Regions from separate parts of the Homo sapiens genome. Here regions 2, 3, 4 and 5 are each reported to be linked to region 1. Evidence: microRNA targets listed by miRTarBase, many of them from high-throughput screens and not tested one by one. Region 1 holds a microRNA gene; each other region holds the end of a gene's coding sequence.

Region 1 (4,129 bases):
CTCATGGAGGCCTCAGGCCCTAGAGACCAGGAAGAGCCTGGAATCCTAAGTAGTAAAGCAGACAGGGGTGGTGGCTCACACCTGTAATCCCAGCACTTTGGGAGGCCAAGGCGGGCGGATCACCTGAGGTCGGGAGTTCGAGACCACTCCGTCTCTACTAAAAATACAAAATTAGCCAGGCATGGTGGTGAATGCTACTCAGGAGGCTGAGGCAGGAGAATTGCTTGATCCCAGGAGGCAGGGGTTGTGGTGAGCCGAGATCGCACCATTGCACTCCAGCCTGGGCAACAGGAGTGAAACTCTGTCTCAAATAAAGAAAAAAGAAAAAAAAAAAAGTAGCAAAGCAGAGAACTGTCCCTCTGCCCCTTTGGGGCATCTCCTTCATTTTGCTTCTCTGCAGTCCTGCCCTGTCTATTCCTCAGTCACTTTGGCAGAACACAGCCACCCCCCTACTTTTGAGCTTGCTAGGGTCAGACCCATGAGAAGAATCATTTCTGAACCTCTGGGAGAGAATCTGATTAGCCAGGTACAGCTTGGGTCAGGTACACCCCCCGACTCCCGCATCAGTTAAGGTAGTTGAGTACAAACATGATTGCTAGGTACTCACCCCTGTGAAAGAGAGAGGAGGGGGGCAAGGGTGGTGGTTAGCTCAGAAGCTGGGCAGATACAACACCAAAGCGCTAGGTGATGAAGCCACCCCGTGCGAAGGAGGGAGAAAAGGACAAGGAGGACAAATGCCTTTCCTCTCCAAACTTCTTTAGCAAAGTCTCCTGATGGACACATTTTGACTGGGAAAACAGAAATGGAGCTGCCACTCTTCGGAATGTTCTTCTGCAGGTTCGGGGGGCATTCTCTTCAGCTTCTGACCCTACAGCACAGGGCCAGGCACAGAGAAAGCGAGCGCGTGTGGATGACCGAGTCCGACTTGACTGCGTGTGCAGCCACACTGGCAGAGTTCTGGGCTCTTCTGCACATCCCTCTCTGTTTGCTCATTGTTTTGTTGTTTTGATTAATCCCCTGGAAAGCAGGGTGTAAACAGACTACCTAGATTCAAGTTCAAAAGCACTATAAAGCTGCCCTTTAAAACATCTTTTAATAAATGGTGGCCTTAGATTTGTTTTGTAGAGATTTTTTGCCCAAGGTTTTCCTAAAAGGAAGCACATTTTTTTGAAACATGGTTCTGTGCAGGGTACAGGGCCACCTCTGGCACCAGAAGTGGGGTTTGGTGGGGACAGGCTGTGCGCTTGTGGCTTGCCATGCCTCAGACTGCCTCTGCAAGGGCCTGAGCTCCAGGAAGGCAGCAATGACAGATGCCACTGCACGTCCATGGAGCTCAGCTCCACCACAGAAGGCAAACCAGAGACACCGCCCTAGAGCTTGTGATCTGGCCAGGAGGAATTATACAATAAATTAATTACAATTCCAATAAGCCATTAAAAAAAAAAAAGCACAGGGCATATGATGACATTTGAAGGGGAACCCGAGCCAGTCTGGGGATCGGGAGCATCTTGTCTGAGAGTGACCTTTGGGTGGAGATCCACAGGAAGGGGACGTTTAAGGCTGGGCTGGGGGAGTGCAGGGGAGAATGTTCAAAGTGGAGGTGACTGGATGGGCAAAGGCTTGAGCAAGGGCAAGCTTGAGGAGTCAAAGAACAAGAGAGGAAACCAGGGTGGGTACAGTACCAAGGGAAGCAAAGCGAGTTGGGCTGGAGTGGGTCAGGGCCAGGCCATGTGGGGCCTCGCAGGCCTCATGAAGGACTATGAGAATGATGTGTTCTTCGTTTTTTTGAGACAGAGTCTCACTCTGTTCCCCAGGCTGGAGTGCAGTGGCGCGATCTCGGCTCACTGCAATCTCCGCCTCCCAGGTTCAAGCAATTCTCTGCCTCAGCCTCCCGAGTAACTGGGATTACAGGTGCCTGCCACCATGCCCGGCTAATTTTTGTATTTTTTTTAAAAAATTTTGTATTTTTAGTAGAGATGGGGTTTCACCATTTTGGCCAGGTTGATCTTGAACTCCTGACCTCGTGATCCACCCACCTCGGCCTCCCAAAGTGCTGGGATTACAGACATGAGTGAGCCACTGTGCCCGGCCAGGACTGTGAGAATATCTTTCCAAGATCCCTCTGACCCAGTGTGAGGATGGTAGGGGTGTGAGAATATAAAGGACAAAAGATGGCCAGGCGCAGTGGCTCATACCTGTAATCTCAGAGCCTTGGGAGGCTGGGGCAGGCAGATCACCTGAGTTCAGGAGTTTGAGCCAGCCTGGCCAACATGGTAAAACTCCCATCTCTACCACAAATACAAAAATTAGCTGGGTGTGGTGGTGCGTGCCTGTAATCCCAACAACTACTTGGGAGGCTGAGGCACGAGAATCGCTTGAACCTGGGAGGGGGAGGTTGTAGGGAGCCGAGATCGTGCCATTGGACTATAGCCTGGGCAACAGAGCAAGACTCCACCTCAAAAAAAAAAAAAAAAAAAAGACTCTTACCCGCTCAGACATCCAGCATAGATTCCCCTTGAGGAGCAAATGTTGAAGACAGGCCTTTTGAGAGTGGAAGAGGCAAGAAATTTCCCTTAGGTCCCACCCCATGCACCTGGAGTGCAGTCACATCTGTGGTGCACATTTGCTCACCTTCTAAGTGACTCACTCACTGTTAAGGGTAGTGATGTCTGAATTGGCAGGCCTGAAGGTTTTTCTTTAGTGTAATCATTGCTCAATTACCTTCACCATCTGTGCTGGAAATGATTGTGATGACTTTGTGTGATGAAACCCAGAGGTGCCCAGTATTCCTGGGTGTCCTTTCCCACCCTTTATTACAGCAGAGGCATCAGAGTTCAAGAGGCCAGGTTCTCACTTGCGTCAACACACTGCTGCCAGGAAGGCGAGGCGGGGCGGAAGTGAGGTGTGAGTAGGATCTGTGAAGACCACTTGGGCATTCAGGATGATGCAGACAGCAAGTTGGAGAGGAAAGCCAGAAGATGAAACGCTCAAAGCAAGGGCCAAGTTGGCAAGTGGGCTAGGATACAGACCAGAAGCCGAGAGGGGTTAGAGGAAAAAAATGGGGCATTTCTAGGGAGATCACATGGACAGAAGGAAGAGGTTTAGCTACAGACAGAAACAGGCAGAGTGCTAGGACTGCCTCAGCACAGTATCACATCTGCAGGGTATTAACCTTTTGCAAAATTAAGATGCTGGCCAATTCATTCAGTAATTCTTCCAACAAATATTTAGTGAGATGCCAGGTTATTCTGCCTTGGGGACACAAATATATACAAAACAGTCACAGTCCCTGACTTTAAAAAATTTAGTGGCAAACCATCAGGCAAACATGGAATACAAAACACAGGAATAAGAGTCAGTATAGGACTGAACCAGCAGTAAGGGAGCACAGAAGTGGGAAACCTCCCACCACTGGCAGGTCAGAAAGACTTCCAGGAAGCTACATCTAAACCAGACCTGAAAAATGAATGTGAATTAGCCATTGGATGGGGGCGGGGATGGGTTGAGGTGAAGGTCACAGTCCATTTAAAGGCGAGCAGCAGTGAAGGATGGGGCTCTAGGTAGCCAGAGCTGTACCACGAAGGGCTTGGCAAGCCATGCTAGAGTCTATGTCCCATCCCGAGGGCAATCCACAGCTAGATCACAAACTCCACGATAACCAGCGTCTCCCCAGCAACCACACAATGCTTGACACATCATAGCTCAATACTTGATAGCTAACGACCGAATGCATAGAGGGACAGCAATGAGGTGCTGTGGAAGGATCTTCACAATTTTTAATTCCTAAAATTGAAATGTCTACTAATTATACAGTCTTTGGCTTCACATTAAGACTAATGTGCAACTGCTGGTCATGCTATCGAGGTCACTAAAAGAACTGTTCAACTGGACGCGGTGGCTCATGCCTGTAATCCCAGCACTTTGGGAAGCCGAGACAGGTGGATCACGAGGTCAGGAGTTTGAGACCAGACTGGCCAACATGGCGAAACCCCATCTCTACTAAAAATACATAAATTAGCTGGGCGTGGTGGTGCATGCCTGTAATCCCAGCTACTTGGGAGGCTGAGGCAGGAGAATTGCTTGAACCTGGGAGGCAGAGGTTGCAGCAGTGAGCCGCAATCGTGCCACT
Region 2 (4,129 bases), not on the chromosome of region 1:
AGACATTTATGTATAGGAAGAGAATTATGGAAACACTTTGTAAAACATCCATTTATTATATCCAATGCTAAACACTACCACTTGGACTCTAAGATATGTTTATGCCTCTCTGTTTATTCTAGTTTTTTAAAAATCAAATATACAAGATCTACAATTATTTATATCCAAGATGTCTACACCACTGCCTAAGAAGCTATTAAAATATTTGTATTTGTGCAATGGAACCCATTATTCACATGGTCCTAGAATAAAAAGTCAATTTATATTGTGAATAAATTTATCAAAAAACATGTCATCCAATTCCCACAAATGAGACATTTTAAATACAGAATACACTCTGTTCATGAATATAAAATCCCCAGGTGAAAGTCCCTTAAAACACTATTATGGTTATGTTTCCTAGAATAATTTTATAACTTTTTCAGAGAATTCCTTTAAACTTGTTAAAATACCTTGTTGCTAGTGCTCAGAACATCTAGGTTCAGTCTTTATTTTTAAGACAGTATCTATCCTAGGCAAATGAGAGCTTGTTTTTATGTATTTAAGAGTTTCCTCTTGTCATTTCAATGTCAAATTGATTTGACTCAATTTCATGATTTCATCTCGCTCAAGGCCATCAACCGGTCAGAGCCAGAGCCCTTCAAAGGCTGTATGTGAGTATATGAGGGAAAACTTTCCACATAATTTTACATCATTTCTATCTCATAGCAGTTTTAGTTTTCTCATAGCTATCTCATAGCAGTTTTAGTTTTCTCAAATTCTATGCTGTTTTTGTACTACTGCAGCTGACCAATCCAAAGCCAGTTTACACTCAGCATGTGTTATTCTACTTTAAAATATAACCTTAGTGAAAGCACCCTTCAAATCAACAGCAATCTCACAGTGAGTTTCCTCTGGGTAGTCAGGATTTGTCCAGAACTACATCCTTTTCAGATGTTCAGAGTTTTGCTTGCCATTAGGGAGGCAAGGGAAGGATGAGCAATAAATCAGGTTTCTCGTTCGTATCTTACTTCTTACCTAATTTTCTCCCTGTTGCTTATTTGGTACATTCCCTTCTCTGAATTCCTTAAACACTTTATAAGGTTATTTCTGCCATACAAGTGTAGACAATTGTATTAATTCTAGTCTTGACTAAAGATTTTAACATTTTTCTGGGTGCCATTTTTATCTATTCTCTCTCCCCCCAAATTCTCTGGGCTAAACAGGCATGATAGTCTACCTAGTGTTACTTGACCATTACTTTCCCACTGCAATTATAAAATGAATTCCTTAATAAGCAATTTTAAACTAGAAGATATATCCAAAACTTTTTAAAGGCACAAAGGACAACTTTAGGACACAACACTGATTAGCATCAAAACCTGAAACTGTTCCTCTAGTAAGTCTATGCAATCCTAATAATGTATACTGAAGAGTAGTAGCTCAGGCCAGTGGTTCTTAGCATTACTTGCTAAAAAAGATAAAAATCCATGACACTATCTTCAACTGTTAAATATCTTATGTTAACTAAGGATTTGCCTGTTCCAAAAATGTCTCAACTGAACCTATACATCACCTAAACTCCAGCTTATAGCAAGAAAATTCCTTAGAAGTATGAATTCATATTTATGATCTGATTTTAAAGGGCTAAAACAAAATTCTAAGCAATCAGAAATATAGCAAACCTAAACTTACCAAAGCAACCTAAAAACACCAAGGAAACGCTAGACTGAAGTCAAATTTTAGTTCTACAGTTTGACTCCTGATTCCTCACTTCACATTGGTGAGGGGAAGATTAAAGTGTTCTGTGCAAACCCAATATAATTACAATTAGGGGATCTAATGTTATTACATAGCTACAGTCAAGTTAGCAGTGTTGTGTAGCAGTGACATCAATGACTGGCTTGCATGATGGCTTCTAAAAGCATCTGATCCCAGAGTTTCATGTATCATATATATGTATATAAAATAATCAGTTGAGGACAGCATTAGCATTCTGTAAAGATGATAAACTCAGTGTTAACTTCTCCCAGCCAGTACCTTTTCCCCTCATTAAATATGTTAAAAGTTGTCTGGGGGGGAGGGGAAGGGAAGAATTCAACTTTACTTCATAATTATGTATCAATTGTCAGTATACATTTAAGTTTTTAAAACCTAAATGTTCTATGCAGAGTAAAGAATAAGCTGTCCAGAAAGCACACACTTAATAAATTTCTCCTCTTGGGAGTTATATAAAGGGATTTTGAACCTTGATGGCGAGAATCCCAAAACAAGAGTAAAATGAATTCTTTTTATTGCAAACAAACGTCTAAATTAATTTCTCCACCCACTTTCTTTAGAAAGAAAAAGAAATCAGCAGGCTAAGGAGATACCCATTCAAGAACTGACATGATTAAAAATTAAGATATAAATGGGTGACTCACAATTTCATTAGCTTACAAAGATGGTGGAGTTAACTACTACAAGCACACTAGTTATACAGTATTTTGTGGGAGAAGGGCATACAGACATGGCTAACTTCATATAGATCCCATTAGACAACTGGATTTACAACAAGTTTTTTTAATAAGAAATGGGCAAAGCCAGCTTTCTTTTCAGAATCAAAATGCAGAACAAATGGAAAAATTATGGTATTAACCTTCACAAGTTTGAGCCTCCACAAATAATGCAACCAAGTTTTACATTTTTAACAGCCCTTCTACATACACTCCATCTTCTCTATCTTAGTTCCAAGTTTTAGTTTTCAATCCCAATTATACCAATTCCATTGTTATTTTAAGAAAAAACCTTCCCAGTTATTGTCAGAAACTATGATTTAGCTTACCCCCTCCACTACCCAGCAAACTACAGAGAGGATGGAGTGTAATATGAGCAGTACAGAGTCTTAATGCAATTCATGAGGACCACTTAGTCCTTACATGAATCTGGTTGCTAACATTTCTATTATATTGTGACAATGACTCCCGACTGTTATTCTCTGTGAGAAATGGGGGGAGTAAATTCTTAATAAAAGACACCAGGTACAAAGCAACATTTTACTTCTGTTGTGATAAAAAAAAAAAAAAGTCACATTTTACAGATAAAATGTAGAACCCTGAAATACTGACACATTCTCTTATCGTGCACAATGCTGAGGTTCTCTTACGATTCACTTTTAAACTGCAATTAAAAATGTACAAAAAAGAAAAGAAAAAAAATCAACCCACAAAGCTTCTAAAAAAGGAACCCGCAGGCACTTCCTCTTGTGGAATGTTTAAAAAGTTAGCCTACTAAAGAAAACAGTCGACTTCTTGTGAAGGTTTTGGAGAAATATGTATCAGTTCGTTTTATTTGGGTATTCAATAATATCCTTGGTGATAATGCTGACTCCATGGCTTCTGACCCCAGAATTGCTGTAAGAGAAAATTTTGTTTTTAAAGAAAAAACATCAATAAGCCACTCAAACTGTTTTTAGGAAATGACAATGAATCTAATTCAGAGTAATTTGCTGGAAACAAATTTATACCTGTCATACCTCTGATTTCTACCAAACCAGATTTAGTTTTAATATCCCATAATTATCAATACACATTACAAAACGAAACATCATGACTTTGTTAGTTTACACAATTAAAGCTAGCAGTAAAAGAACTGTATATATTAAATAATATTACTTTATTAAAAAAATTTAACTTATAGCAATCTTCAACCTATTTTGCCTTCAAAAGGTAGATTATGGCTACTACTGCAAGACGATTCACACTTTACCCTATTAACACTTATAAACACTTCAATCCCTGAACAAGATCTTTTTCAAGACTGATAAATCTTAGGAACTCAAAATACAATTAATGTACATAAAGCACATAAGAAATTACTTACACCCTGCTGCCACTGGTTGTAGCCCTGAGATTGATTTTTGTAGCCACGATTGTTTCCTCGTCCTCTGAAGTTCTACAAAAAGGAAATACTCTCTAAGAGCTCTGAGCCCAATTGCTTGTTAGGTTTGTGGGGGTGAGAGAGAGGAGCAGAAATGGACAGGTTGCTAGCCCCTAATCTTAGGTAGCAAGCAATACACAAATTCTGGATACCCTCTGCTGGTTTCTTATGTTTTAATTTTTTATTCATTATGAGAAATGCATCTGACTTGTTTAGTACACCTGAAAAAACT
Region 3 (4,129 bases), not on the chromosome of region 1:
ATGCCAAGCTAATTTTTTTTTTTTTTTTTTTTAGAGATGGGTTTTCGCCCTGTTGCCCAGGCTGTTCTCAAACTCCTGGACTTAAGTGATCCACCCACCTCGTTGGCCTCCCAGAGTGTTTGGATTACAGGCGTGAGCCACCACAACCAGCCTTATCTGGTTTTAAATGATGGCCATGAAATTAAACGTTTTCGAAGCCCTAAATGGCCAAAGAAAGCCTCTGTGGACAGATCTGGCCTGCGGGCTGTCTGTCTGTCTCATCTGCTGTCACCTGATGTTCTCATTCTTCCCTCTCTTTCCCACCTTCCCCACTAAACACCTCGCTGCCAGGTATGCCACAGCCCTGGAGGACACTGTGGACACCAGCAGACTGTTCAGGAGCCGTTCCCTTCGAGAGTTTGAGGAGGCTCTCTTCTGCCACACCAAAAGCTTCCCCATCAGCTGGGATACCTACTGGGACCGCAACGACCCGCTCCGGGATGTCGATGAGGCAGCCGTGCCTGTGCTGTGTATCTGCAGTGCTGACGACCCCGTGTGTGGACCCCCAGACCACACTCTGACAACTGAACTCTTCCACAGCAACCCCTACTTCTTCCTCCTGCTCAGTCGCCACGGAGGCCACTGTGGCTTCCTGCGCCAGGAGCCCTTGCCAGCCTGGAGCCATGAGGTCATCTTGGAGTCCTTCCGGGCCTTGACTGAGTTCTTCCGAACGGAGGAGAGGATTAAAGGGCTGAGCAGGCACAGAGCTTCCTTCCTTGGGGGCCGTCGTCGTGGGGGAGCCTTGCAGAGGCGGGAAGTCTCTTCCTCTTCCAACCTGGAGGAGATCTTTAACTGGAAGCGATCATACACAAGGTGAAAGACCTGGCCTGAGAACCCCCAAGTCCTGCAAAGAAAAACAGAGCTGGGCAAGGGGGAGTCCTGGAAAGATGGGGCGGACTGAACAGAGGGAGCTCCAGCTCTGTGCTCCTCATTCAGTCCCTCTCTCTTAAATTGGTGCCTTGAAAGAGAAGGAACGTCCTGCGAGCCTGCACTCACTTCATCCTCAGCAGAACTCCTGCCTGGCCTCTGCTCAACATATCCCTACTCATCCGGTCAGCAGCGGCGCGTTCCAGTCACTGTCACCTGTCACTGACATCACAAGCCAAAGGATAGCACTTTTTCAATCCATGGACTCAGGAGAAAATGCCCTCTTACTGGCAGTGGCTAGAGGGATGAGACGTTTGTGTATGTCACTGGGCAGTGACCCCGATTCTCAAGCTGGAGCCATTTGATGTCATGAGGACAGGATGTTTGTGTCTCGGCCCCACTTCCCTCATTTGCTCTGTGGTTGTGGCGCCCTGCTTTGACCGAATGCTCTGGCAACTGCGGCAGCAGGCTTGTGTGTGTGAGAAGGGCGGCAGAGGCAGTGGGGCTGGCTCGCTGAGGGCTGAGCAGGTAGAGAATGTGAATGTCCATCTCAAGGAATGCGAAGTTCCAATCTCTCAGAGGAGCTCTGCAAGTCTCAGCTAGGAATGGGGCTGATCTGGCCCCCAAGCCTCACTGGAGAGATCCCAAGGGTATTTTACAAATAGGAAGCGCTCTCATGCAGGATCTGAGGGCTTTGCTAGACCATGGTTCAAGGAGTCAGAATCTTGGCTACCCTACATGCTCCCTCTGGCACCATTTCAGGGGATTACTCCAGAGAGCTGCAGCCAGAACTGTTTATCTCCTGAGATATGGACTTTCTCTAAGTCAGGAAAAGCACAAACCTCATAACTTAGGTGTTTTCTGGTTGGTTGCTCCCTTTTCTGATCCTACTACTGGCCTCTCCCTTTCCAGAGCCAGGAGACACATCTGGGACCAGAGGAAACAAAAGCACCAAGAGGTTGACTAGAGCTGACCAGTGATTTACAAATATTTCATATTCCAATGCTTCGTCTGCTCAATTATTCAAAAGGCCATCCCTGTAAAGGCAGAAAAGCTTCCTCTTAGATCTGGCCACTCAGCAAATAAGTGGGTATTTGGTTTTATGAAGAATAATGCTGAGGACTAGAGATATAGTATATCAGAGATAATATATAGTATACAGGTTGATCTAAATATTCTGGTTTGGATTAGGCAATTAAAATTTTTTTGGCAACAGGACATATGTTTCCATGTGTTGCTAAGATTCAAAAACTTTGCCCTGAAGTTTTATTTTAATCGTCATTGAGAAAGAGGGCTCCTGTTCTGACCTCAAAAACAGCAAAGCTGTTGTAAAGAAGAGAGCTGCTTATACGAAAACCCACATTCCAAGACTTGGTATAAGGTATTCCTGAGGCCTTGATTTCAGGTTTGGATAATCTTGCCCCAGATTCTAGATCTTGTTCTTCTAGATCAAATCAGAAGAAACTTTGAAATAACTCCAAGAATCTGCACTGAAATGTAGACAGCACTCGATAATCTAAGGGACATTATCTTGTTGTGAAAAATTATCTCCCTCCTGGCTGGGAGCGGTGGCACACACCTATAATCTCAGCACTTTGGGAGGCCGAGGTGGGTGGATCACGAGGTCAGGAGATCGAGACCATCCTGGCTAACACAGTGAAACCTCATCTCTACTAAAAATACAAAAAATTAGCCGGGCGTGGTAGCGGGTGCCTGTAATCCCAGTTACTCAGGAGGCTGAGGCAGGAGAATGGCGTGAACCCGGGAGGCGGAGCTTGCAGTGAGCTGAGATCGCACCACTGCACTCCAGCCTGGGCGACAGAGTAAGACTGTGTTTCAAAAAAAAAAAAGAAAAGAAAAATTATCTCCCTTCTCCCCACTTCTTGTTTCTCCTCCTCCATATTCCTCATCTGACGTTCTTTTGCCGTTTCTAAGCAGGATAAATAAAAAGGAACTGAAATTAAGCTGCTCTACTGCCGGTGAACAACAGCCTTGGTGTAAGCCTTGGTGAGGGAGATTTACTGCCATCTGGCCATCCGCTACCACCAGCTGCCCTCCACATCTGGTACAGTGAGGATTTCAGTTAATTAGGGTCCCGTAGTCCCAGTTGCCCTGCAAAATGGGAAGCAGCCTAGTGGTTTTTAAACCCTAAGGCTTAAAGAGTCCCTAAGGGTGAAAATCTGCATAGTTTCTCTAGAAACTATCCAGATAATGCAAGATTCTGGTTCTTCAAGAGAATAGCTTTTGGAGAAATAGTGGTTGGTTTTCCTTTCCCTTTTGATAGGAAAGAAAGTTTTCCAGGGAGAGAAATGTATAAACTTTGTAGTTACAGTCAGAAGAATGGCAGAATCAGCCCCAGTTCACGTTCCATTAATTCCTTTGAACCCTGAACTCTAGTGACCCGAACCCTAAAGTATTTCTCTTCCGTGGCCCTTGTGCCAGATGCACCCACTGCATATCCCAAGAACATTCTCTGATTTTCCCATTACTACTTGAAGACTAGGGCTGAAATGCCTGTTTTGTGCTGAGAAAGTGTAATTTCTGTTCAAGCAGGAAAGATTTGGATGGCCCTGTCCTTTAGCCTAATGATTCAAGAATCACACAGGTGAATTCTGCTTTGGTAAATAGCTAATTGTGTGAAGCCAGCTGGAGGAGCCCCAGGCACACTGTTCTGTGAATGGGTGGCCCTTGAACAAAATGGCAAGTTATGAGTTTGAGGAAGCAAGAAACAAACAACAAAACCAAACAATAGGCGGGGCACAGTGGCTCTCACCTGCAATACCAGCACTTTGAGAGACTGAGGTGGGAGGATCACTTGAGGCCAAGAGATCGAGACTAGTCTGGCCAACATAGCAAAACCCCATCTCTACAAAAAATTAAATTAGCTAGGCATGGTGGTGCACCCTGTAGTCCCAGCCACTCGGGAGACTGAGGCGGTAGCACTGCTTCAGCCCTGGAGGTCGAGACTTCAGTGAGCCCCTCCCGAACACCTAAGAACCACTGAGTTGGACTTTCCAGGTGGTGGGTCTTCAGTAATCTTCAGGCCTCATTACTTGCTTGCCTCCTTTTTGGTGTCCGTTATTTACCAACACCTTCAAATGGTAAGATAAAAAAATGAATACAAATAAGGAAACGAGCCAGGTGCAGTGACTCACTGCAAAGTGCAGTAATCCCAGCACTTTGGGAGGCCGAGGCAGGCAGATCATTTCAGTCCAGGAGTTCA
Region 4 (4,129 bases), not on the chromosome of region 1:
CCCGACGCTGTTCATGTTCATGCTCAATGGCAAGCAAGAGCATGGGCTGCTGAGCCTAAGGAAGAATGGGATGAAGTTGGAGGTGTACCCTCCAACCATGGGCACTCACAAGCTGCAGATCTTTGCCAAGGGCAACTCCGACATCTACAGCTCAGTGCTGGAGTACACGCTCAAGTGCAATTATGTGGACATGGGTGTCCAGCTGCCTGCTGAGCTTCACCAGCCCGTGGGCCCCAGCTGGTTCTCGGAGCAGATGGGCATCATGAAGCCCTCCCACCCTGACCCTATCATCCACACCAGCGACGGGCGCTGCTCCATCAGCTTCAGCGTGGAGGAGGGCATTAATGTCCTGGCTTCCCTCCACGGGGATGATGGCCCCATCACTGAGGAGACACAGCGGCGCTACATCTTCCAGCTGCACCGGGAGAAGCAGACCGAGCTGAAAGTCCAGCTGCCCCATGCAGGCAAGTTTGCCCTCAAGATCTTTGTCAAGAAGAGGCAGGAACCAGGAAACTACATCTTCGTCTTTAATTACCTTGTATGCTGTGCCAACACCAAGGTGAACTGGCCCATGTTCCCTGAGAGCTTTGGCAACTGGGGACAGGACAATGAGCTGCTGGAACCTCTGTCAGGTGTGCTTCCTGCCAACCGGAATGTCCCATTCAAATTGAAGCTGCATGGTATTGCCAAAGTCCTGGTGAAGGGGCAGGACACATGGCCCCTGACCCTGAACCACGAGGGCTACTGGGAGGGAAGCTGCAGCACAGCTGGCTGCCAGGAAGTCTATGTCATGGTGCTGGAGAATGCCAACCACAATTTCTACTCCTACATCCTGAAATACAAAGTGAATGCCCAGTGAGGGCTGTGCCCCGGTCTTACCCTCCCAAAGGGCCAAGGCCAGACCTCCCCAGGGAGGGCTCGAAGGAAGTGCAGGGAGCCCTGGACACCACTGAGTCTGCATGAAATCCCTTCTAGGCCTCTGCCTCAGTGTCCCACCTCTGCCACAGGAGCTGTGATCTTTGTGTTCTGAAGGCTTCACTCAGGTGTGGCTGTGACTGAGGGGGCAGAGGCAGTGGCTCTTTAGAAGGAAAAGGTGCTATGTAAATCTAAGGTATTGTAAACTGTACACCTGCATCCAGATGCCCCTTCTCGTATTAGTGCTGCTGCTGTTGTTGTTGCTGTAGGGTTGATGAGGGAAAGCAGGGATATTGCCCAGGTTGACAGCTTTTCACATGATGCTTAGAGAATTCTCTTCCATGCCCAAGGGGACATGATTTGCAAGGCTGGGTTGTCCTTGAATCACAGAGCCCCTTTCAAGCAATATCACCGTGCCTCTCGACAGCTCCGAGCCCCCAGGGAATCTTGGACTATCTTCTCCTCCCAGACCTGATCATCTTCTGCATCCTGCTGCCTCTTCATTAGCTACTTCTTGTTCTTCAAGAGCCCAAGAAAAAGGGTGTGGTGAGGAAGCCAGCTGACCCACAACTGGCTGGAAGCTGATCGTCTCCAACATCCCTAAGTATAGTCAGGAATGTGACAACCAGAAAGTTGTGAGGAGACTGCAAAGCAAAGAGCAGCCCATGCCCGCTGTGGCTGTGCAGGTGGGAGGGACACTGTCGGCAGAGCTGCAGCCTTGGTCTGAGGGTGTAAGACCTCCAGCTCTGCTCTGAGAGGAGTACACAGGGCAGGTAGTTCAGTCTAAGGCCTGGAGTGCCCTCCAGGCCCTCACAGAGCCTGGGCCTCAGGCCCCTGCCCCACCTCCACAGAGAGCCTCCAGAGGCTGGCCAGGCCCTTGGGGAGTCTTGTGGATAGCCCTGAATAAGGACCTGGGCGCAGATCAGGTGAGTAGTGCAGTGCGGCAATGCCGAGGAGACTCACACTTTAACAGGGCTCTGCCTGCCCCCAGTGTCTCTACCAGCAAAGCCAGGGCTGGGAAGAATTCCAGCTGCACGAGAGCAGCTTTTGTGCCTGTCTCGGAGAAAACATCCTATCCCGTCTCCTTTCCTCCCTTCTCTGAGAAGACAGCCCCCTCCAGTCTCACCTTGCATGGGGACAGCTCAGGGCTCCTTGCTTGCTCAGGCACAGACTGAGAGGCCTCAGCTGCCCAGCTGGCCCTCAGCAGCGCCTCAGGCTGCCGTTGCCATGGCAACGGAGGAAAGGCTGACTTCAGCGAGGGCAGATAAGAGGGAAAGGCGAGAGAGGCCCCACATGGCCACTGCAGAACCATCCTGGCACACAGACATGCTCCCTGCTGAACTCCCGGCTTCTCCAGCTCCGTGGCCCCTGGCTGTCTCAGTGCCCCCCAACCCCTGAGAGCCAGCACTGCCTGGCACCTCTCCCCACAGCCCCTCCACAGGCCTCCAGGCTCAACCACAGCCAGGGCCAGCTGGGACCCTCATAGCTTCCTCCGTGGCACTCACCCTCACATCCCTGTATCCAACAAATGCTCACAGAAGTACCAGATGCTTGGGCTACAGAGGTGAACCAAGGGGGCCCGGCCCCTGCCATCCAGAGTACAGGGTGAGGAAACTGCCAGGCAGCAGCAGCCTTCCCTGCCCAGGCCTGACTGAAGATCCAGGCTCCAGACACTTCTGTTCATTATCCCCCGGGATCCCTCCCCTAAAAGTCCCCACTGCCACCCAGCACGGTGGCCTAGCCCAGAACCAGCTCACAAGGGTGCCCATCATCCAACAGGCCGGCGGCCTCGAGCAAAAGGGGTGTCTCCCCTGGGGGGCTGAACTGTCCTGGGCAGGTCCTGCGCCCTCCGCAGTCTCTGCCACCGAGGCCACCCAGCCAGCCTCGTGTCACTCACACCTGAAAAATGCACAAAGGCCCCGGAGGCATAACAGCTATGCACCACCACAGGGAAACAAAGGGAGTTTTACACCCTGAAAACAGCCGTCTTGCACACTTCTGATTTTATGGGCTTAAAGAAATGTGTTTGTTTCATCAAAACAATAAGTGCCTTCGATGACGCATGTCACTCACTGGACCCCGCGCTGGCTGCCTCGCTTAGTCCTGCTGGAGACCCCCATACCTTTTCGATATGCAATATAATTAATCAATACATCCTGGAGCATTGCAGAGAATGCCACCCAGCAAAATAGGAGCTGTCCCCAGCACCAGAGAGGGAGGCCCCGCCCCTCAAAGCACCGCAGGGCATCAGCAAGCCCCTCCCTCTCGTTTAACTAGGCACCCCCTTTGTAAAGACAGCTGTAGGCGCAGTCAGAAAATCACCTGCATTTCTTTCCACTGAAGTAAAAATACATGAAATGAAATCTAATCTTCATGAATTTTTACACGCATGCTGCTCAGGGTAGACATTCGGAGTTGCATTTTGAAGGCTTTTCTTTAAATCCCCATCTTTGTTTCCCGGGCGACGAGTCCCAGTCGCCGGCGGAATGGCACGGGCGCCCCCAGGTGTCCGAAGTGCGGAGCTGCCGGCGCTGCACACCGCGAGGCTGATCTATCACCGGGCTTTTTCGCAGAACTTGAAAATGCTGTGGAAATGTTTATGTTAAAATCACTAGGTGCTTTCTCGTGGCTTCTCAGCGCTACCTTATGTGTACACGGAGGACATCTTTGTCACGCACAAGCTGTGAGGGCATCCTGGGGGACAACCTGGTGTGTTGAAAAGACAAGGGATGTGATGGGACTGTTTTGCCTGGAAATAACTTCTTGAAACAGAAGCACTTGACATAGGACTGGATGGAACAGCTGTGACTACACTCATTACTATACCATTGAAGGATTGGAACCGATCAAACTCAGAAAGTATCTGCTTGCAATTCTCAGGATGGCAGCCCCCAGGCCACAGGGCAGAAGGGAACCGAGGGTGGAGGAGTGGTGGGCAGAGGCACTACAACCACAACTTCAGTACACTTCTTTCCAGCTTGTTTCAGAAGTGCCATAGCTCAGCTGGACTCCATTTTCAATCTGATTATGATCATTGTGAGTTCCCCATATGTTACATTGTCCTACCAGGACAGCCTCCTCACTGCCTGCTAAGATTAAAAGTAAATAAATAGACTAACTGAAGCATGAAGGATTTCGGCTAGACATAAAGAACTATTTCCTGTTGTTAAGCAGGAGGGACAAGTTGCCAAGAAAGTTTGTGAAATCCTCTTCT
Region 5 (4,129 bases), not on the chromosome of region 1:
AAGGCAATGAAATATGAAATTGTATTTTCTACCACCAAATAGTACCCATCCAAAGAGCACCCTGCCACCCACATTTACATTCCTGGGCAAAGGACACAGAGAGCTGGGAGGAAAGCAGGGGCCCCTCCAGCGGGGGCAGCCCTCCCTGTGCGCCGCTGCCAGGCTGTAGAAGCCCCGGCGTCCTGCTCCTGACACCCCTCCTACCCCTGGGCAGGTGTCCAGCGCAGCCCCGCAGAGCTCCAGGGTGGCCAAGTGGATCTCACCGGGGCCACCTGCCCCTACACCCTGTCCAACATGACCTACAAGGAGGAAGACTTCGAGCGCCTGCTGCGGCTCAGTGACTACAACGTGCAGACCAGCCAGGGTGCCATCCTGCAGGCCCTGAGGACCGCGCTGAAGCACCGGACTCTAGAGGCGAGGCCTCCAAGGGCACAGACCTGAGGTTGCTCAGAGGCTGCAGGACCCTCCAGGGCCTGCGGGCATAACCTGATCTGTAGCTGGGCTCAGCCACAGGCCTTCCTGGTTGGAGTTCTGGGCTCTCCCAGGCCTGGGTGGCCTCTGTAGCTGGTCTCACTGCCCAGAGGGAACTGCACACACAGACTTCTCTCTTACGTTCATGGCTGGCTTGAGATGAGTTGAAAATAACTTCGCCAGGCCAGTGTGTAGAACAGCTGGTCCAACCAGACAGACTTTCACACCACAATTACTTCCATGCCTGAGCAGGATAGATTTGAAGTGCAAGCCGGAGGCAGCAGATCAGGAGTAGGGACAGGAAGGACAGGGGATGCCTGACCTGACAGGTGGCTTCAGGCCTCGGGAATCACAAGACATCCTGAACACATTGCCTCCTCATCTTCTTCCTGCTCCTCCACCTCCTCCTCTCCTTGTCCTTCTCCTCTTTGTCCTCCTGCTTTCCGTATCCAAGTCTTGTACTTGTTTAAATTTATTCCTAAATATTTTATTCTTTTTGATAAGTGGAGTTACTTTCTTAATTTCATTTAGATTATTCATTGCTATTTTATAGAAATACAATGGATTTTTAAATGTTGATCTTGTATTCCGCAATCTTGCTGAAGTTGTTTACCGGCTCTAATACTTTTGCGGATTTCTTAGAATTTTCTGTAGACAGATCATGCCATCTCCAAATAGAGATGGTTTTACTTCTTCCTGTCTGATCTGAATGCCTTTTATTTATTTTTCCCAATTGCCCTGAGCAGTACAATGATGAACACACGTTTCAAGAGCAGACATCTTGTCTTGTTCCTGACTCTGACAAGAAAGCATAAGTCTCTCACCATTTAGTGTGATTTTAGCTGTGGGTTTTTCTTGGACATCCTTATCAGGTTGAGAAAGTTCTCTTTTATTTCTAGTTTATTGAGTGTTTTATGATGAAACGGTGTTAGGTTTTGTCAAGTGATTTTTCTGTGTCTATGGGCATGATCATGTGGTTTTGTCGTGTATTTTATTAATGTACTCTATTGCATTAATTGGTTTTTGGATATTAAACCAACTTTGCATTCCTGGGGCAGTTTCCATTTGATTATGGTATATAAACCTTTTTGTTTATTGCTGGCACATTTCTTTTTCTTTTTCTTTCTTTTTTTTTTTTTTTGAGACAGAATCTCATCACACTCTGTCACCCAGGCCAAGTTCAATGGTGCAATCTGGCTCACTGCATCCTCAACTTCCTGGGCTCAAGTGATCCTTCCACTTCAGCCTCCCAAGTAGCTGGGACTACAGGCATGTAACACCATACTTGGCTAAATTAAAAAAATGGTTTTTTGTAGAGATGAGGTCTCACCATGTTGCCCAGGCTGGTCTTGAACTCCTGAACTCAAGCAATCCTCCTGCCTCAGCCTCCCAAAGTGCTGGGATTACTGGTGTGAGCCACCACGGCCAGCTGCTAGCACATTTCTTACCTCCCTCATGCAAGGGTGCGTGTACACATACACACACACACACACCTGGCCCCAGGTGGGGGTTGTAGTGAGAGCTTCGGGACAGACCTTGGCTCAGGGACTGCCCTCATCTGATGTCCTCTCTCAGCTTCCTTCCCTGTGCCTCTTCTGCATTTGGCTTTATTTTGATTCTTCACTTTTTCCCTTTATCATGGACTCTTATTTTTTTAACAGTGATATGGGAATTGACTAGCTGTTGTGTTTTATTTTATGCTGGGCATTTTACATTATTCCCCTTAATTCTCACATTTGCCTAATGTGTTAGGTAGAATTACCGTCTCCTTGTTATCAGTGATGAAACTCAGGGTTGGGAAAGGAACAGAACAAAGCATCCTGTGACTCGTCTGCAGGTCCCTGGTGTCCGCCTGATGCACACAAACTTCACAGAGCACCTGTGTCAGGCAGGGTCACCGCGCCCCCGTGACGCAGCAGGACAGAATCAAGGCCACTCCATAAATATGCCTGAGCATGGACAAAAAATGAGGGCACTGTGAAACCATAAAAATGGCCAAACAGTGCCCTCTCCTGTTTCACGTGAGAGACTGCGGTTTCTCTACCAGGCTTTTCGTCCCTCCCGTTCTTCCACCTCCTGGATAAAAATTGTGAAGATCCTCAATTATAGACTCGCCCCACTCCCTGACAGCACCCAATCCACAGCAACACTTTGCTTCCTTGAACATTTCGTAATGTCACCCTACAAACGCCCAAATCCTTCAATAAGCACCCCCCCACCACACACACACACACACACACACACACACACACTTACTGAGACTGCACTGCCTCCTAGTATACAGTCTTCTTAGTGCAATGGGTACCAGTTAACTCAAATTTGTTTGGCTACTGGGCTGTTCCTGCTGGCCTCTGGCTGGTAGGCGTCCACAGGGATTAAGTAACTTGCTAACCTCAAAGGTGGCAAATCCAGGACTGGAGCTTCTGACAGCCACACCTCTCTGTGTCTTTGGGCACTGACTTTGTAACGTGCCCTATTCGTAGTTTAGAATTAACCTCACCAAAGAGAGGTCCAGTCTCTGCCCGTGGCTAGTGGGAGGTGACCTCTGGGTCCTGGAATGTCCTGTCTGACAGGAGTGTCTTTGTTTGCTGGGGGGCTTTGGAGACTAAAGGTCGGTCACACAGGCAGCATCTGATCAAGCCTCAGTAAAGTCTCTGGGCACCAAAGTCTCAGGTAGACTTTCCTGGTGGACAACACCCTGTGCGTATCCTCACACATTGCGGCCCAGAGGAGGCAATGCTGTCCAGAACCCCAAAGAGAGAGGACACCTCCCTGGAAGCTTGCAACTGGACCCCTCCCAGATTCTGCCCTAAGCCTCTCTTCCTTTGGCTGGTTTTAATTTGTATCTTTTCATGATCATAAAACTGTAATCATAAGGTTAGTGCTTTCCTGAGTTCTGTGAGTCACCCTAGAAAATTACTGAAGCTGAGGGTGGTTGTAAGCACCCCCAAATTTGCAGCCAGCTGGTCTGAAGTGAAGGTGGCCCTGGGGACTCTGAACTTGCGGCTGGTGGCTGAAGTTGGGGCAGTCTTGTGGGGACTGTTCCCTCGGACTGGACAGTTTGGTGACCTCTGCTGCAGAGGTCAGGCGTCCCAGAAGATGTGGTGGTCTGGAGGACTGTGCTCCCAACCTCAGGGTTTGGCCAACTGCCGGCACGGATGCTCTGGAGAGTGAGCCGGCATGGTAGAAAAAAAAAAAGACCCTTTCCATTTGGCGAACTTTCAATAAAGCCAGCCAGACAGCCAAGGAGAGTGGGCTGGGCTGAGGCTCAAAGCCACACCTGGCATGTGAGTGTGGATGTTTATCTGTCTCATATACCCGCCCCCCACTAGCTGCTGTCACCCCAGCCCCTGACTACCCAAACACCCGGAGGCCCTCTCAGCCCCACCCTGACCCGGGTGAGGACCGTGACTCCAGCAGCTGTCAGGCCCCCACACAAAGGCATCTATGTAAATCACACAGTGCTCTTCCTGCAGCCTGTGGGCCCTTCCTGGGGCCAGCTCAGAGACAGGAAGACAGCAGGCTGTCTGTCACCAGTCCCAGGACAAGGCTGGCGCTCTGCCCTCTGCTCACCACAGGCTGTGGCCGGGGGAAAGGCGAGCAAGATGAACTGAGAGATGCTCCCTTTTCCTCATCAAGTTGGATTTATCTCCACTAT

Evidence for each region. The annotated mature microRNA hsa-miR-4663 reads AGCUGAGCUCCAUGGACGUGCAGU and lies in region 1 at 1,316-1,339, opposite strand. An mRNA with a match to its seed (bases 2 to 7 or 8) in the 3' UTR can be bound and repressed. Matches are read on the target gene's strand: a 7mer-m8 pairs with bases 2 to 8, a 7mer-A1 pairs with bases 2 to 7 and ends in A, and an 8mer does both.
Region 2: miRTarBase lists HNRNPU as a target of hsa-miR-4663. Seed matches in the 3' UTR shown: 7mer-A1 at 3,108-3,114.
Region 3: miRTarBase lists ABHD15 as a target of hsa-miR-4663. Seed matches in the 3' UTR shown: 7mer-A1 at 1,042-1,048, 7mer-A1 at 1,981-1,987 and 7mer-A1 at 2,493-2,499.
Region 4: the mRNA of KY is a reported target of hsa-miR-4663. Seed matches in the 3' UTR shown: 7mer-A1 at 2,115-2,121 and 7mer-m8 at 3,913-3,919.
Region 5: miRTarBase lists PLA2G4D as a target of hsa-miR-4663. Seed matches in the 3' UTR shown: 7mer-m8 at 502-508.

Annotation. Positions count from the first base shown.
Region 1 is chr8:123,214,516-123,218,644 of GRCh38, forward strand. MIR4663 (microRNA 4663) reads right to left here and starts at 1,348; the gene lies at 1,273-1,348.
Region 2 is chr1:244,851,133-244,855,261 of GRCh38, forward strand. HNRNPU (heterogeneous nuclear ribonucleoprotein U) reads right to left here. Exons shown (of 14, transcript NM_031844.3): 13 at 3,841-3,912; 14 at 1-3,371. The coding sequence ends at 3,318. It overlaps SNORA100 (small nucleolar RNA, H/ACA box 100), which reads right to left and starts at 3,085; the gene lies at 2,955-3,085.
Region 3 is chr17:29,559,288-29,563,416 of GRCh38, reverse strand. ABHD15 (abhydrolase domain containing 15) reads left to right here. Exons shown (of 2, transcript NM_198147.3): 2 at 331-2,870. The coding sequence ends at 856. Among named protein-coding and RNA genes, the nearest start is that of ABHD15, 5.7 kb to the left of the region's middle.
Region 4 is chr3:134,600,309-134,604,437 of GRCh38, reverse strand. KY (kyphoscoliosis peptidase) reads left to right here. Exons shown (of 11, transcript NM_178554.6): 11 at 1-4,129. The coding sequence ends at 859. It also overlaps a transcript of CEP63 not described here. Among named protein-coding and RNA genes, the nearest start is that of KY, 49 kb to the left of the region's middle. RefSeq lists a silencer at 77-371.
Region 5 is chr15:42,065,027-42,069,155 of GRCh38, reverse strand. PLA2G4D (phospholipase A2 group IVD) reads left to right here. Exons shown (of 20, transcript NM_178034.4): 20 at 215-2,147. The coding sequence ends at 441. Among named protein-coding and RNA genes, the nearest start is that of PLA2G4D, 27 kb to the left of the region's middle.